Regions from separate parts of the Homo sapiens genome. Here region 1 is linked to region 2. The links come from fine-mapping of genetic effects on plasma protein levels. A gene starts in region 2. The other region holds a variant in brackets. All regions are shown on one strand. Distances are from middle to middle. Region 1 overlaps EFHD1 (EF-hand domain family member D1). Region 2 holds the start of EFHD1 (EF-hand domain family member D1).

The links. PIP is the chance, under the fine-mapping model, that this variant and not a neighbour inherited with it causes the effect. Protein levels are from antibody-based Olink assays in UK Biobank. Linkage for the fine-mapping came from a reference panel and not from the study's own genotypes, which makes the PIPs less certain.
Region 1: its variant is fine-mapped to the plasma level of the EFHD1 protein (UK Biobank, PIP 0.97).

The regions. Positions count from the first base shown.
Region 1 is chr2:232,655,193-232,663,192 of GRCh38, forward strand. It overlaps EFHD1 (EF-hand domain family member D1), which reads left to right. Exons shown (of 4, transcript NM_025202.4): 2 at 7,610-7,757. Among named protein-coding and RNA genes, the nearest start is that of EFHD1, 26 kb to the left of the region's middle. RefSeq lists an enhancer at 6,903-7,402. The variant T/C (reference allele first, on the strand shown) is at 3,582.
Region 2 is chr2:232,629,418-232,637,417 of GRCh38, forward strand. EFHD1 (EF-hand domain family member D1) reads left to right here and starts at 4,187. Exons shown (of 4, transcript NM_025202.4): 1 at 4,187-4,589. The coding sequence starts at 4,288. RefSeq lists silencers at 4,225-4,284, 4,362-4,656.

The DNA.
Region 1 (8,000 bases), 26 kb after region 2:
TTTCTTTTTTAAGAGATAGATCTCACTGTGTTGCCCAGGCTGGACTTGACCTGCTGGGCTCAAGCAGTCCTCCTGCCTCAGCCTCTGGAGTAGCTAGGATTACAGGTTCAAGCCACTGTACCTGCCCTTAGTGGTCATTTAACTGGGCCACCCCTTCTAAGGCTGACTTGACCAGAGAAGTGCTTCTCAGAGGGTTTCCTTGAAAAACCGCATTGCCAAGGTACGTCTTCTCAACAGAAAATCCCCAAATGCAGAGGACTGTGTGGTCAGATGAGTCTGTGTGCTCTGTTTCCCTCTTGTAAGTTTTGGACACATACGGAAGGCTCTGGAAAGTTCCACACTGAACCTGTTAACTTTGACTGGGACTCCGTGTAACAGAGACTGTCCCTCCCAGCCGGTTTGTGCAAGCTCTCTTTACTTCTCAGGTCTAGTTCCAGTTGGCCGTTTTGCCAGAAGGCACTTCCTTGCACTTAGCTAAAGTCTGTCTCACCCATTTCCATGCACAGAGCCCAGTTCTGGCAGCCTTTGGGCCCCTGGGCAACATCTGAAGGCAGCTCTTTGCCAGATCCCACTTGTTCCTTCCACCCCTGTCCTGTCCTTGTGTGGGGTCTTTTTTTTTTTTTTTTTTTTTTGAGTCGGAATCTTGCTCTGTCACCCAGGCTGGAGTGCAGTGGCACGACCTCGGCTTACTGCAAGCTCCGCCTCCTGGGTTCACGCCATTCTCCTGCCTCAGCTTCCCGAGTAGCTGGGACTACAGGCGCCTGCCACCATGCCCGGCTCTTTTTTTGTATTTTTAGTAGAGATGGGGTTTCACTGTGTTAGCCAGGATGGTCTTGATCTCCTGACCGCGTGATCCACCCACCTCGGCCTCCCAAAGTGCTGGGATTACAGGCGTGAGCCACCGTGCCCGGCCTGTGTGGGGTCTTAAGTCCATTCGTCTTCTTGGCTGCTTCCCACTGACCAGGCCCATGGCCTCCCTGAAGTGTGAGGTCTGTGTGGAGTGGGGCAGACCATGATGAGGTGGGTAGGACTGTGGCCCTTGCATTCAGGATTCAGGACTTTTTGTACTTGCCACTATGATTTATTTCGCCCATGAGTTTTCTGGCAGCCTCCCTGACTCACTGTAGGGTCCCAGTCCCCTGAAGGTGTGGTCACAGTTGCAAGTGAGCGCCATTTCTCTCAAAACCTGTGCTGGGAAAGTCAGTCTGTGGGGGTCTTAGTTTTAGGACCTTGCTTTTTTTTTTTTTTTTTAATTGTTTTGGGACAGAGTCTCACTCTGTCACCCAGGCTGGAGTGCAGTTGTATGAGCACAGCTCATTGCAGCCTCGACCTCCCAGGCTTGAAATGATCCCCCTGCCTCAGCCTTCTGAGGAGCTGGAACCACAGGCACATGCCACTATGCCTTGCTAATTTTTTTATATTTTTGAAGAGACAGGGTCTCACTATGTTGCCCAGGCTTGTCTTGAACTCCTGGGCTCAAACAGTCCTCCCACCTCAGCCTCCCAAAGTGCTGGGATTGGAGGCATGCACCACTGCTCCCAGCCAGTACCTTGCATTTTTTAAAAATTGTGGTGAGATATACATAATGTGAAATTTAGCAGTTTTGTTTTGTTTGAGACAGGGTCGCATGCTGTCACCTAGGCTGGAGTGATCACAGCTCACTGTAGCCTCAAACTCTTGTGCTCAAGTGATCCTCCCCCTTCAGCCTCCCGAGTAGCTGGGACCGCAGATGTGGGCCACCACATTCAGGTACTTTCTTAATTTTTTTGTAGAGATGGGGTCTTGTTTTGTTGCCCAGGCTGGTCTGAAACTCCTAGGCTCAAGTGATTCTCCTGCCTGGGCCTGCCAGAGTGCTGGGATAACAGGCAAGCCTGACTGCACCCAGCAAAATTCACCATTTTTAACCATTTTTAAGTATAGAGTTCAGTGGCAACAACATTGACATTATTATGCAACCATCACTGTCATCCATTTCCAGAATGTCTTCACCCTCCTAAACTGAAACTCTGTCCCCATTCAACACTAACTCCCCATTCACCTCCCCAGCCCTTGACAGTCACCATTCTACTTCTGTCTCGATGATTTTGACTACTCTAGGGACCTGATAAGTGAATTCATACAATGAGGTGCCCTTTTTGCGACTGGCTTATTTCACTTGGCACAATGTCTTCAAGGTTCACCCATGTTGTAGCCTGTGAGCATGGGTCAGAGTTCACTTCCCTTTCATTGCTGAATGAAATTCCATTGTTTGTATAGATCACATTTTGTCAATGGGCATTTGAGTTGTTTCTACCTTTTGGTGACTGTGAATAATGCTGCTAAGAATACTAGTGTCAGCCAGGCATGGTGGCTCACGCCTGTAATCCCTGCATTTTGGGAGACCGAGGCAGGCGGATCACCTGAGGTCAGGAGTTCGAGACCCACCTGGCCAACATGATGAAACCCTGTCTCTACTAAAAATACAAAAAATTAGCCGGCCATGGTGGTGGGCGCCTGTAATCCCAGCTACTCGGGAGGCCTGAGGCAGGAGAATCACTTGAACCCGGGAGGTGGAGGTTGCAGTGAGCTGAGATCGCACCACTGCACTCCAGCCTGGGCAACAAGAATGAAACTCCATCTCAAAAAAAAAAAAAGAATACTAGTGTCCAGACTCCATTGGATCCTATGGTAATTCTTTGTTTAGGACCTTGCATTTTTCTTTCTTTTCTTTTTTTTTTTTTTTTTTTGAGACTGAGTTTCACTCTGTCACTCAGGCTGGAGTGCAGTGGTGCGATCTCGGCTCACTGCAACCTCTGCCTCCCAGGTTCAACAGATTCTTCTGCCTCAGCCTCCTGAGTAGCTGAGATTACAGGCATGCGCCACCATGCCTGGCTAATTTTTTTGTATTTTTAGTAGAGACGGGGTTTCACCATGTTGGTCAGGCTGGTCTCGAACTCCTGACCTCAGATGATCCACCCACCTCGGCCTCACAAAGTGCTGGGATTATAGGCATGAGCCACTGCACCCAGCCAGGACCTTGCATTTTTCTTTGCTATATTTTATCTGTGGACATCACACCAGCTTGCTGAGATCTTTTGGGCCTAGATTCTGCCCCAACTTTGTGTCACCAGCGAATCTGAGAGTCAGCACCCTTTCCAGGTGGCTTTAACTAACAGCCAGTCCGCCTAATTGTATCCATACTTCTCTTCCCCATAAGAGCCTGCCTGCTAGAGGGCGTTGCTCACCCTGAGTGGTAACATCAGGTCAGCTGTGGTTTTCTGTTAGATCAACTTGACAGTAACGTTTCACAACTAAATAAGCATGTGACCCAGCATCCAATCTTGGGTATATACACGAAAAAATGGAAATATATGTCCAAACACTTGTATATGAACGTTCAAAGCAACACTATTCATAAGAGCCAAAAGGTGGAAACAACAAAATGTCCATCACCTGATGAGTGAAGAAACGAAGTGTGGTATATTGATACAGTGGAATATTGTTGGGCTACAAAATGTCCACAAGAGGCAAATCCATACAGACAGAAAGGCTAGTAGTTGCTGGGGGATAGGGGTGGCAAGGGGAGAGTGGGGAATGACTGC[T/C]AATGGGTATCAGTTTCTTTTTAGGGTGAGGCAAACGTTCTGGAATTACATGGTAATGATGTTGGCACAACCTGAATATACTAAAAATTAATGCACTGTACAGTGAATTTTATGGTATGTTAATTATATCTCAGTAAAGCTGTTTTTTAAAAAAAACTTAGAAAACAGGGAAGTGAGGTCCATCCTCAAGTCATTTTCAGTGAACCCATGGAAATTGTTGCTTCCCTTCTTAAAGTGCTCACAAACCGTCCTCTGGCAACACTAGATCCTGGGCTGGTGCATCTGTGATTCACATACTCTGCCCACTTCTGGGAAACCCAGAAGCACCTTGCTTGTTTCCAGATCTGGAACACCTGTCTCATCCTTCACGGTTCCTCAAAGCTCACCAACAGCCACCCAGCGATCTTGTCTGTGTCCTTTAGTGCTTTGCAATGTAGCTCTGCCAGCAAGGAGGCTGCACTGAGCACAGAGCTGCTTGAGTAAGAAGTAGCCAGCATACTGTTAAAGTGAGGGCACTGAGAAAAAAAAAAACACAAGAAATAAAAATAGAAGCACCCACCAGAGGAAGGTGGTGAATGCTAAGTCCCGGAGAAGGATGGACAGTGGGTGCTATTGGAGAGCTGTGGGGGAAGCAGGTGGCTCCCTGAGCTCCTGGGCACAGGAGGACCATAGAGGAGGGCAGGGAGGGGGTGGCTGGGTGAGAGGAATGGCACAAGTTGGCCACTGTGGCTGGAAGGGAGCCTGTCAGGGATTCCTGGGCCTCCTCTCCAGCCTGACCTTGGGAGCCTTAACTACTGCCAGTCCACAGCACTAGATTCCTAGGTGCCCACAGGCTACATTTCTTGGCAGGTAGTGGTTGTTCTCAATAATGGTGGGTTTTTGTTACTGAGGCTGTGTTGGGGAGAATGCAGACGGGTAATGAGTGGATGAGTCAGTTCTCAAACAGCAATAAAGAAAAACCTGAGACTAACTAATTTATAAGAAAAGTGGCTTAATTGGCTCATGCACAGTTCTGCAGGCTGTACCGGAAGCATGGCAGCGTGTGCTTGGCTTCTGGGGAGGCCTCAGGAAACTTACAACCATGGCAGAAGGTGAAGGGGGAGCAGTACTTCACATGGCCGGAACAGGAGCAAGACAGAGCAAGCGGGGAAGTGCTGCACACTTTTGAACAACCAGGTCTTGCAAGAACTCACTCACTATCACAAGAATGGCACCAAGGGGATGGTGCAGAACCATTTGTGAGAAATCCACCCCCATGATCCAACCGCCTCCCACTAAGTCCCACCTCCAACACTGGGGACTACAGTTCGACATGAGATTTGGTGGGGATGCAGATCCAAACCAGATCAGTGAGGAAGCCTGATTTACTTATTTTAATTTTTAAATTTGTGTTATTTATTTATTTTATTTTATTTTATTTATTTATTTATTTTTTTTTTGAGGCGGAATCTTGCTCTGTCACCCAGGCTGGAGTGCAGTGGCACGACCTCGGCTTACTGCAAGCTCCGCCTCCTGGGTTCATGCCATTCTCCTGCCTCAGCCTCCCAAGTAGCTGGGACTACAGGTGCCTGCCACCACGCCCGGCTCATTTTTTGTATTTTTAGTAGAGATGGGATTTCACCGTGTTAGCCAGGATGGTCTCGATCTTGTTCTCCTGACCTCGTGATCCACCCGCCTTGGCCTCCCAAAGTATTGGGATTACAGGTGTGAGCCACTGCGCCAGGCCTCTTTATTTTTTTAAGAGATGGGGTCTCACTACATTGCCCAGGCTGAATGCAATCAAACTCCTGGGCTCAAGTGACCATCCCACCCCAGTCTCCCAAGTAGCTGGGACTACGGGTGGGCATATGATACTATACCCAGCCTTATTTATTTAATTTTTTACAAATTGTGGTAAAATGCACTTAACATAAAATTGACCAGGCCAGGTGTAGTGGCTCATGTCTGTAATCCCAAGACTCTAGGAGGCCAAGGCGGGCGGATCATGTGAGGTCAGGTGTTCGAGACCAGCCTGGCCAACATGGTGAAACCCCGTCTCTACTAAAAATACAAAAATTAGCTGTGTGTGGTGGCACACACTTGTAATCCCAGCTACTTGGGAGACTGAGGCAGGAGAATCGCTTAAACCCAGGAGGCAGAGGTCGCAGTGAGCCGAGATTGTGCCACTGCACTCCAGCCTGGGTGACAGAGCCAGACTCCGTCTCAAAAACAAAACAAAACAAAAATTAGCTGGGTGTGGTGGCGCACACCTGTAATTCCAGCTACTTGGGAGGCTGAGGCACTAGAAACGCTTGAACCTGAGAGGCGGAGGTTGCAGTGAGCAGAGATCGTGCAGCTTCACTCCAGCCTGAGTGAAAGAACATGACTCTGTCTCAAAAAAAAAACAAAAACAAAAAAACAAAACCTCTGACCACTTTAACCAAGTAAGTGGACATCATTAAGTACATTCACATTATCGTGCTGCCATCACCACCATCCATCGCCAGAACCTTTTTCTCATCTCAAGTTGAATCTCTATCCATTGAACACTAACTCCCATGCCCCTCTCTCCCAGCCCCTGGCAACCAATCATCCACTTTCTGTCTCTATGAATTTGACTACTGTAAGAACATCGCAGAAGTGGCACCATACAGCATTTGCCTTTCTGTGGCTGGCTTGTTTCACTTAGCAGAATGCCCTCAAGGTTCACCCGTGTATAAGCCTTCCCTTCCTTTTTATTGCCAAATAATATTCCCTTGTATAAACATACTATATTTCATTGTATGGATATACGGCTATACCCCCACCACCACCCCTTTTTTTTTTTTTTTTTTGAGACAGTCTCGCTCTGTCACCCAGCCTGGAGTGCAGTGGTGCAATCTCAGCTCACTGCCACCTCCGCCTCCCAGTAGCTCTCCCACCTCAGCCTCTCGAGTAGCTGGGATTACAGGCGTGCACCACCATGCCCAGCTAATTTTTGTATTTTTAGTAGAAACAGGGTTTCACCATGTTTGCCAGGCTGGTCTACGAACTCTTGACCTCAGGTGATCCGCCCGCCTCGGCCTCCTGAAGTGCTGGAATTACAGGCATGAGCCACCACGCCTGGCTGGATATACCCCGTTTCGTTTCTCCTTTCATCTGTCCGCAGACACCCGCGTTGTTTCCACCTTTTGGCTGTTGTAAACTGATTTGTTTTTAGAGCAAGGTATTCATACCTGAGCAACAAGGGGTCTCTGGGTGGCGGGAAATGCTTGAAGGGAGGAGAGCCAGGGGGTCTGTGGAGAAATCCTGTAATGGGGGAAGTGGCTTGGAGGAAGCAGAGCACACAGGGCTGAAGATGGCTGGGCCAGGAGGGGACAGGCCCAGTCCCACCTGGTGAAGCTGGGTTTGTTTCCTGGCTGGGGGCTGGGGGGCCAGTCAGCAGAGGGGTGGCCCTGTTAGAGGACAGAGTCAGAGCCCTCTTGGTAGACACGGCCGTTCAGAGCTGGAGACAAGACGAGCGAACCAGAGGGGAATCATGAGCCAGAGTCATGATTCCGCACACAGGGGTGGGAAGCAACTTCCCTAGACCTGGGACGGAAAGGCGGGCTGTTGGGAATGGCTGTGGGAGAGAACCAGGGGCAGTGACCAGGAGGAGGCTCCTGGAATTGCCAGCCCTTCCCTGTGAACGTGCTGGGCGTCAGGGGCCAGCTCCTGCAACCCCTCCAGTGTCCAGCATTAGGAGGAGGTGCTCGCTTGATGTTTGTTGACTGAAACTGGGGGAAATAAAGGTAAACAAAGCATGTTTCTCACCCTCCAGAAATTATGGTTTAGTTGAGGAGATAAAAGACATGAAAACCAACAGGTAGTACAAGATCTGCTTTGAGTCATACAAAGCCCTGAAGCGCTCTGAGGAGAGAGGGGTTCCTCTGGAGCAGGTGACCCACATTGGCCTCGCAGAGCGGGAGGTATTTGAGTCATTTTTCGATGAATGAAGCCAAAGGAATTACATGTTTCGGAGACTAACGAGTGTCCTTTCATCCCGGTCATGCATTCCTTTGACCCTGCAGGTATGACGCTGGGCGGGATGGCTTCATCGACCTGATGGAGCTGAAGCTGATGATGGAGAAGCTGGGGGCCCCCCAGACCCACCTGGGCCTGAAGAGCATGATCAAGGAGGTGGATGAGGACTTCGATGGCAAGCTCAGCTTCCGGGAGGTACCTGCCTGCTGTGGCCCTGAGCCCCTGTGGGGTGCCCCTGAGAGGACCTTCAGGTGTACAGCCCACTGGAGCACAAATGGGTTTGGCCTCTCCAGAGCGCTGTTTGCGTATCTAACCTGCAATTCCGCTTTCAAAAATACCTTTTAGGTGACAGCTAACCCCAGTGCTGGCCTGGAAAAAGCAGCATGGGTAGTAGTATAACCTCATTTGAGTAAAATAATAAGAAATTTGGCGATGTTC
Region 2 (8,000 bases):
CTGATTACAGTTTTATACATTCATTGTAGGAAATTCAGAAAAATGAGATTTTCTTTTTCTTTTTTTTTTCATATGGAGTCTCACTCTGTCTCCCAGGCTGGAGTGCAGTGGTGCCATCTTGGCTCACTGCAACCTCCGCCTCCCGAGTTCAAGCGATTCTTCTGCCTCAGCCTCCCGAGTACCTGGGACTACAGGTGCGTGTCACCACGCCCGGCTAACGGTTGTATTTTTAGTAGAGATGGGGTTTCACCATGTTGGCCAGGCTGGTCTCGAACTCCTGACCTCAGGTGATCCACCCGCCTCGGCCTCCCAAAGTGCTGGGATTATAGGCATGAGCCACCACGCCCGGCCAAAAAAAAATGAGAATTTAAAAAATGAAAATGAAAATTATCTGGACTCTTAGCATTTATAACTGTTAATAATTTGCCCCCTTTAGTTTTTTTTTTCCATATATAGATATTTGTTTTACAAAACATGGGTCATATTTGTACAGTAAGATTGATATTGGCCCATGATTCAACAAGCATGTTTTTTGTTTGTTTGTTTGTTTGTTTGAGACAGGGTCTCTGTCGCCCAGGCTGGAGTGCAATGGCTCGATCTTGGCTCACTGCAATCTCCACCTCCCAGGTTCAAGCGATTCTCCCACCTCTGCCTCCCAGGTAGCTGGGACTACAGGCACATGCCACCATGTCCAGCTAATTTTTGTGTTTTTAGTAGAGGCGGGCTGTCACCATGTTGTCTAGGCTGGTCTTGCACTCCTCACCTCAAATGTTCCACCTGCCTCAGCCTCCCAAAGTGCTGGGATTATAGGTGTGAGCCACCACAGCCGGCCCAGCAAGCATGTTTGAGTCTTTGTCAGGTGCCCGACTGGACATCGGAAAAGAGGAGAAGGAGAACAGGCTTTGGGCTGTGGCCGTAACGGTGACCACCTGGAATTGTCACTAGTGAGATACTAACACTTCATTCTGAGGGGTGGCCAGGTGTTGCCTGGTGAATACTGTGGGCCTGTGCTATTTTCCCTCAGGGGCGGGACATAGCTCAGAGGGCGTTCTGTCTAGGCTGGGTGCCTGGTGGACACAGCCCTCAATCTTTGCCCCTTGCAGATGATGTGCCTTTTGAGAGGCACCAGGTGACTGCTCACAGTATGCAAGCGCATTATCTAAAAGCACTCCCTCATTTGGAAACACTTCAATGAAAAAGTGAAATTTTGTTCACAATCCACTCCCATTAATTTCAGAATTTTCAAGGCTGGGCACCGTGGCTCACCCCTGTAATCCCAGCACTTTGGGAGGCCTAGGCAAATAGGATCAATTGAGCCCAGGAGTTCAAGACCTGCCTGGGCAACATAGAGAGATCTCATCTCTATTAAAAAAAAAAAAAAAAGAAAGAAAGAAAAGAAAAAAAGTCATTTTTAATTTAAAAAATTTTCAACATTATATTCATAAATAAAAAGAGCTGTTAGATTTTTTTAACACTAACTGTTGTAAATTTCAGCATGTAAAAAATGGTTTAAAAATTCTATTACTGGCCGGGCACAGTAGCTCATGCCTGTAATCCTAGCACTTTGGGAAGCCAAGACAGGTGGATTCCTTGGGGCCAGGAGTTCAAAACCAGCCTGGCCAACATGGTGAAACCCCGTCTCTACTAAAAATATAAAATATTAGCTGGGCTTGGTGGTGGGTGCCTGTAATCCCAGCTACTTGGGAGGCTGAGGCAGGTGAATCGCTTGAACCTGGGAGGCAGAGGTTGCAGTGAGCCGAGATCGCACCACTGCACTTCAGCCTGGGCAACAAGAGCAAAACTCCGTCTTAAAAAAAAAATTGTATTACCTACTCATGCAAAGTTTCTCTCTCTCTCTCTCTCTTTCTTTCTCTCTCTCTCTCTCTGTCTCTCTCTCTCTCTCAGACAGGTCTTACTCTACCACCCAGGCTAGAGTGCAGTGGCATGATCATGGCTCACTGCAGCCTCCACCTCCCGGGCCCAAGTGATCCCAAATAGCTGGGACTACAGGTGCATACTACCACACCTGGCTAGTTGTTTTTTATTTTATTTTTATTTTTTATTTTATCTTTTTTTGTACACAAGGTTTTGCCATGTTGCCCAAGCTGGTCTCAAACTCCTGGGCTCAAGTGATGCGTCTGCCTCTGCCTCCCAAAGTGCTGGGATTACAGGTGTGAGCCACCGCGCCCAGCCCCAGAGTTTCTTGTTGATGGAGACTATTAAGAATTTTGAACTTTTTCTTTCTTGAGGAGAGCTCGATGGAATAAGAACATTAAAAAAAAAAAAAAACAAAAACAAAACCAGCTGGGTGTGGTGGCTCATGCCTGTAATCCCAGCACTTCGGGAGGCCGAGGTGGGAGGATCGTCTGAGGCTAGGAGTTCACAACCAGCCTAGCCAACATGGAGAAACCCTGTCTCTACTAAAAATACAAAAAATTAGCCAGGTGCAGTGGTGGGCGCCTGTAATCCCAGCTACTCAGGAGGCTGAGGCAGGGGAATCACTTGAACCCAGGAGGCAGGGACTGCAGTGAGCCGAGATCATGCCATTGCACTCCAGCCTGGGAAACAAGAATGAAACTCCATCTCAAAAAAAAAAAAAGTTTTTAAAATATAAAATTAAAAAAAGTTTAATTACACAAAATTTTTGACCTTATTTCTCTGAAATGTGTCACATAAAGTGGTCAAAACAGATGTGACAACAAAGCCAACCTTCTAGTCACCACCACCAGGTCAGGAAGTGTAGCGCCCCGTGATCTATTTGCAGGGTTGCCATTGTATATGTAAAACCCGTATTCTCTGTACCAAGTCAAGTTGTTCAGTAGGAATGTTAAAGATTTTTATACTTTTCTTTAAAAAACGTATTTTCCTTTATAACTTTTTAAAAATAACATTTTAACCCAGGTCCCCCGCATGCCCTGCACTCGCATGCCAAAGGCTGGTCCCTGGGTCTCAGACAACCATAGTCCAGCGGGGTCACTGACCTGCCCCAGTCATCAGCCCATGGTGGGTCAGAGCAGCGTCGTTCTCAAGTGGGGACAGACCCGTGTTTACAAGATTCTCAACGCCTGGCTGATGTAACAGCGGCATCAGCCTTCCTTGGGGAGAATGACGACTGTATTTGTTTTTACCCTCTTGTTAAAAATGCTGATTTAATTTTCAAGCTTCTTTTCCTTCTTTCCTTTCTTTTTTCCTCCCCCTCTCCCTCCTTCTTCTTCGTTTATTTTTAGAGCCAGGGTCTCACTCTGTCGCCCAGGCTGGAGTGCAGTGGCCTGACCATGGCTCGTTGCAGCCTCGACCTCCCGGGCTCAAGCCATCCTCCTACTTCAGCCTCCTGAGTAGCTGGGACTACAGACGAGCGCCACTATGCCTGGCTGATTTTTTAAAAGTTTTTGTAGAGACAGTCTAACTATGTTGCCCAGTCTGGTCTCGAACTCCTGGGCTCAAAAGATCCTGCCACCAACACCTAAGTGTTGGGATTGCGGATGTGAGTCTCCGCGCCAGGTTTCTTCTCTTTTCTTGTGCGTTTCACGCAAAAAAACCCGAGTCCCTGAAGCTACGCTGCTTTCCTGCCTCTAGGGAAAACGGGAGTTTTTTCTGCTCGTTTGCTCTCTCTCTTTTTTGTTTGCTTATTTGTTTTTAGTATTTTTAGCATGTTTTGGAAACATTTCGTTCCAATGAGTGTTTGAAAAGCAGCTCCCCCGCCCCACGCTCCGGGCGGGCGCCTCCCACTCCCTGACCCCGGGGAGGGTGGGCACCACTCCCAGACGCGGGGGACGCGTGGGTGTCGCTCGGGGGCGCTCGCCTCCCCCACCCAGCCTGTCCCGGGCCGCGAGCGCTTCCAGTCGGGTTACTTCTGGGGGACAAGAAAGGCACCGTCTGAACGGTCGAGACGCTTTTTCCCGCTACGGTTTTCCCCGGAGCTGACAGGGGCAGCAAGGTCGGAGTTGATCCGAGGGTCCCTGCCTGGTCCCGGGGGGACGGTCAGCCTCCCGCCCGGAGCCGCGGGGAGAGGAAGCAGGTCGGGGTCTCCGGGACGCGCAGACACCCAGACACCGGCGGCCTCCTCCCACCAGGCTGGCAGTCGCTGAGCCCTGGCGCCTCCTTAAAGCCGCAGCTCCGCCCCGACCGCCCCGCCCGCCAGTCCGTCCTCAGACCCTCCCAACCGCCGGGTCCCCGCCGCCTCGGCGGAGTGTTGTAGAGCCTCGAGCCTGCGAGGAGCGCGCCGCCCGCCAGCTCCCTGCGTCCCGTCCCGCGTCCCCGCGTTCCCGCGTCCTGCGATCCGCCGCCATGGCCAGTGAGGAGCTGGCGTGCAAGCTGGAGCGCCGGCTGCGGCGCGAGGAGGCCGAGGAGAGTGGCCCCCAGCTGGCTCCCCTCGGCGCCCCAGCCCCGGAGCCCAAGCCCGAGCCCGAGCCTCCCGCCCGTGCGCCCACGGCCAGCGCCGACGCGGAGCTGAGCGCCCAGCTGAGCCGGCGGCTGGACATCAACGAGGGCGCTGCGCGGCCCCGGCGCTGCAGGGTCTTCAACCCCTACACGGAGTTCCCGGAGTTCAGCCGCCGCCTCATCAAGGACCTGGAGAGCATGTTCAAACTGTGAGCTCCCGCTGCGCGCCCTTCGCCCCCGGGACCAGGGAGGGAGCGGGAGGGCTTTCTGGTCCGAAGTCCCGGGCCCTGTTTGTGTGGGGAGGGGTCCCGGGGTGCAGGTAGCATTTGGCCCAACGCAGCCAGATCTTGCGTGCTCGGGTCTATCTCGGCGCGGTGGGGGACGGGGCCGAAGAGGGGGGACACCAGGAGCAGGAGCTCTCCGGGACGGAGCCCAAAAGTTCTCGGCGGCTGCCGGGCCCGAGTTCCAGGTCCCCCAACCCCGACCACTGGTCCCGCCCCCTCCGCCCGCCAGTCCGGAGATTTGCTCCGAAAGCAACTTCTAGGAAAGGGAGCCGTCGCCGCGCCTCACCTGCCAGCTTTCACTGTATCCCCCCAAGGGAAAAATTAGCCCCTGTTGGCCTTTTATCTTTTAAAACAAAAGGGGAAAGTTAATCCTTGGCTGCAGCGCGGGGTCTGATGAATGAGCGGAGGCCGAGAACGGGGAGTTTGGTAAAGTCGTTGTAAGAGATTCAGGACTTTCCTGGAGCAGGCGCGGCCCGGGAGCCTCCTGGGGGCGCGGGGAGGGGGGGCGGTTGTGGGAACCGAACTTGGCCGCTGGCACCGGTCCGGCGGGGGCTCGTTGCGGTCCTGCTCTGTGAGCCCCAGTGCGCGGGGAGCCGCTCACCTGGGGAGACACTGAGCCAGAGGCAGGCGATAGAGACCCACTAGTCCACCTCGTCGCCTGGAACCTCCGGGGATCTCAGTTTCCTCATCTGGAGAGTGGGAGCAGTAACAGTCCCTGCCTTTTAAGGCCGAAAAGTATTTTGCACCCGGTAAGCTCTTAACCGAGCTATTAATATTTCCAGAATTGAGCCGAGACCGGAAAAATGCCTGGGGGAGCTGAGGCCGCCGGCCAGGTCATGCTTGGGCGTTTTTAAAAGCGCATGGAATGTGTTTGCCCTCCGCGTGGAGGTTCTATTTAAAGGCGCTGTGACTGGCGCTGCGTCGCCTGAGCCTCCGCTGCCCCTGCATGGAGGTTTGCAGAGCCGGCACTTGGGAGCCTCCGCCTCCTCTGCCTCCCTGACACCCTGGTTTCTTTGTCTGGCTTCCAGGCACTGATCTGTGGCGTTTTCTGGGTCTAGTTTGGGCAGTTCAGGAAGGCCCAGTGCGCTAAAGAATGCGGCTGGGGCGAAAATGGAAAAGCAATGGGTGAGGCAAGGTTTGTTGGAGCCCTTTGATTTCTCTGGGGTAATGCCTTTCATGGGAAGACTGCCCTGGCCGGGCTGCTCCCAGACCCCACCAGTTCCTCCCAGTCCAGCTGGATTCAGGGGATCTTGGGGAGGGACCTTTATCTTCAAGTTTTCTTGTGGCCACTCAGGCTTCTTTTGTTTTTCCTATAAAACAATCTTTGGAAAGATCAACTTGTAGTTGACTACCTAAGAGTGATAAAAAGAGTCCATATGCTCAGAGGGTCTTGGGAGACGAAGCAAGGTGGCATCTGTGAGCAAACAGGTACTGGACCAGGATCACGCAAAGGGGAGCCGGGCACAGTGGCTTACGGCTGTAATCCCAGCACTCTGGGAGGACGAGGCAGGCGGATCACCTGGGGTCAGGAGTTCAAGACCAGCCTGGCCAACATGGTGAAACCCCATCTCTACTAAAAATCCAAGAATTAGCCGGGAGTGGTGGCGCGGGCCTGTAGTCCCAGCTACTCGGGAGGCTGAGGTGGGAGAATTGCTTGAACCTGGGAGGCAAAGGTTGCAGTGAGCAGAGATCACACCATTGCACTCCAGCCAGGGTGACAGAGGGAGATTCTGTCTCAAGGGGAAAAAAAAAAAGCCAAGGGGAAGGCAGTGTGTGGCCTGGGATCCCAGCAGAGCTAACAGTTCAACCAGTACTTGGTATTTCTTTCTAGGTTGAGTTTTCTGTCACTTGCAACCAAAATTGGCATAAACAAAACGAGAATAATTTGGCTGAGGAAACCAAAAAGCCATCACTAGCTTCAGGTGTGGCTGGATCTAGGCGCTTAGGTGCTGCCATCAGTGCTTAGTTTCTCTTTTTGTTAAGCCACCTTCCTCTCTGCGTTGTCCCCGTTCTCAGATGGCTCATCCTTGGTGGTGGTGGTATGGCCACAACAGCTTAAATTAATAACATAAGAATGTTAAAAACACTAAAGAAAATGTAACACACCAATTTGTTTTCTATTGGATTACCTTCCAGATTTTACTCATGGCAGCAGCAGTCTTGTGAGGCTGTGAAGAGTGAGCACTTGGAGGCAGGCTTCCTGGGTTCAAACCCCAGCCCCACCACTTGCTCCCTGGAAGGTTCCTTGGGCAGCTTATTTAAAAGCTCTGTGCCATCAGTTTTCCCTTCTGTCAAATGGGAAAGCACAGGACCTGCCATGTGGGGTTATTGTGGGGATTAAATTAATTCATGTATGTGATGCATTTAGCTCCATGTTTCAGCCTATGGTGAAGGCCAGGTGGATTTTAGCCCCTAATTTTTAGATTATCACATATCCATAATTTGGGTAAATGTGCACATTTGGCTGGGTGTGGTGGCTCACACCTGTAATCGCAGCACTTTGGGAGGCTGAGGCAGGCGGATCATGAGGTCAGGAGTTCGAGGCCAGCCTGATCAACGTGGTGAAACCCCGTCTCTACTAAAAATACAAAAATTAGCCAGGCATGGTGCCACACGCCTGTAATCCAGCTACTCAGGAGGCTGAGGCAGGAGAATCGCTTGAACCTGGGAGGTGGAGGTTGCAGTGAGCCGAGATCACGCCATTGCACTCTAGCCTGGGCAACAGAGTGCGACTCCGTCTCAAAAAAATAAAAAAAGTACACATTTTGTGTTGTCCTTTTTTGTTTAATAATTCACTTTGCTGAGTCCACTTTATCTTTTGAACCTGATTTAGCCCACAGTTTGAGCTGTGGAGTGGTGACCTGGCCTCTTGGTGAGTTCCGGGTCCCCGTGGGACTGTGTGCTTTGCCCTTCCGGGTTCTGCGGAAGGAACTCGTTAGCTCCTCTGCTGCTGGGTGAGGTCGTTTGTTTCTTAGAGCTGCCTGAATGAAATGCCACAAAGTGGGTAGCATAAAACAACAGAAGTATATCCTCTCATAGTTCTGGAAATCAGAAGTCTGACAAGTCTGAAACCAACGTGTCAGCCGGGCTGTGCTGCCCTTGAGGCGCCAGCGAAGACTCCTTCTGTGCCTGTTTCCTGGCTTCTGGTGGTTGCCAGAATTCTTGGTATTTCTTGTGGTATGGGCGCATCACCGTAATCTCTGCCACCCTGAGCACCTGGTGCTCTCCCTGTGTGTGTTTCTGTGTCTTCACATGGCCTTCCTTTTTTTTTTTTTTTTTTGAGATGGAGTCTCACTCCATTGCCCAGGCTGGAGTGCAGTGGTGCGATCTTGGCTC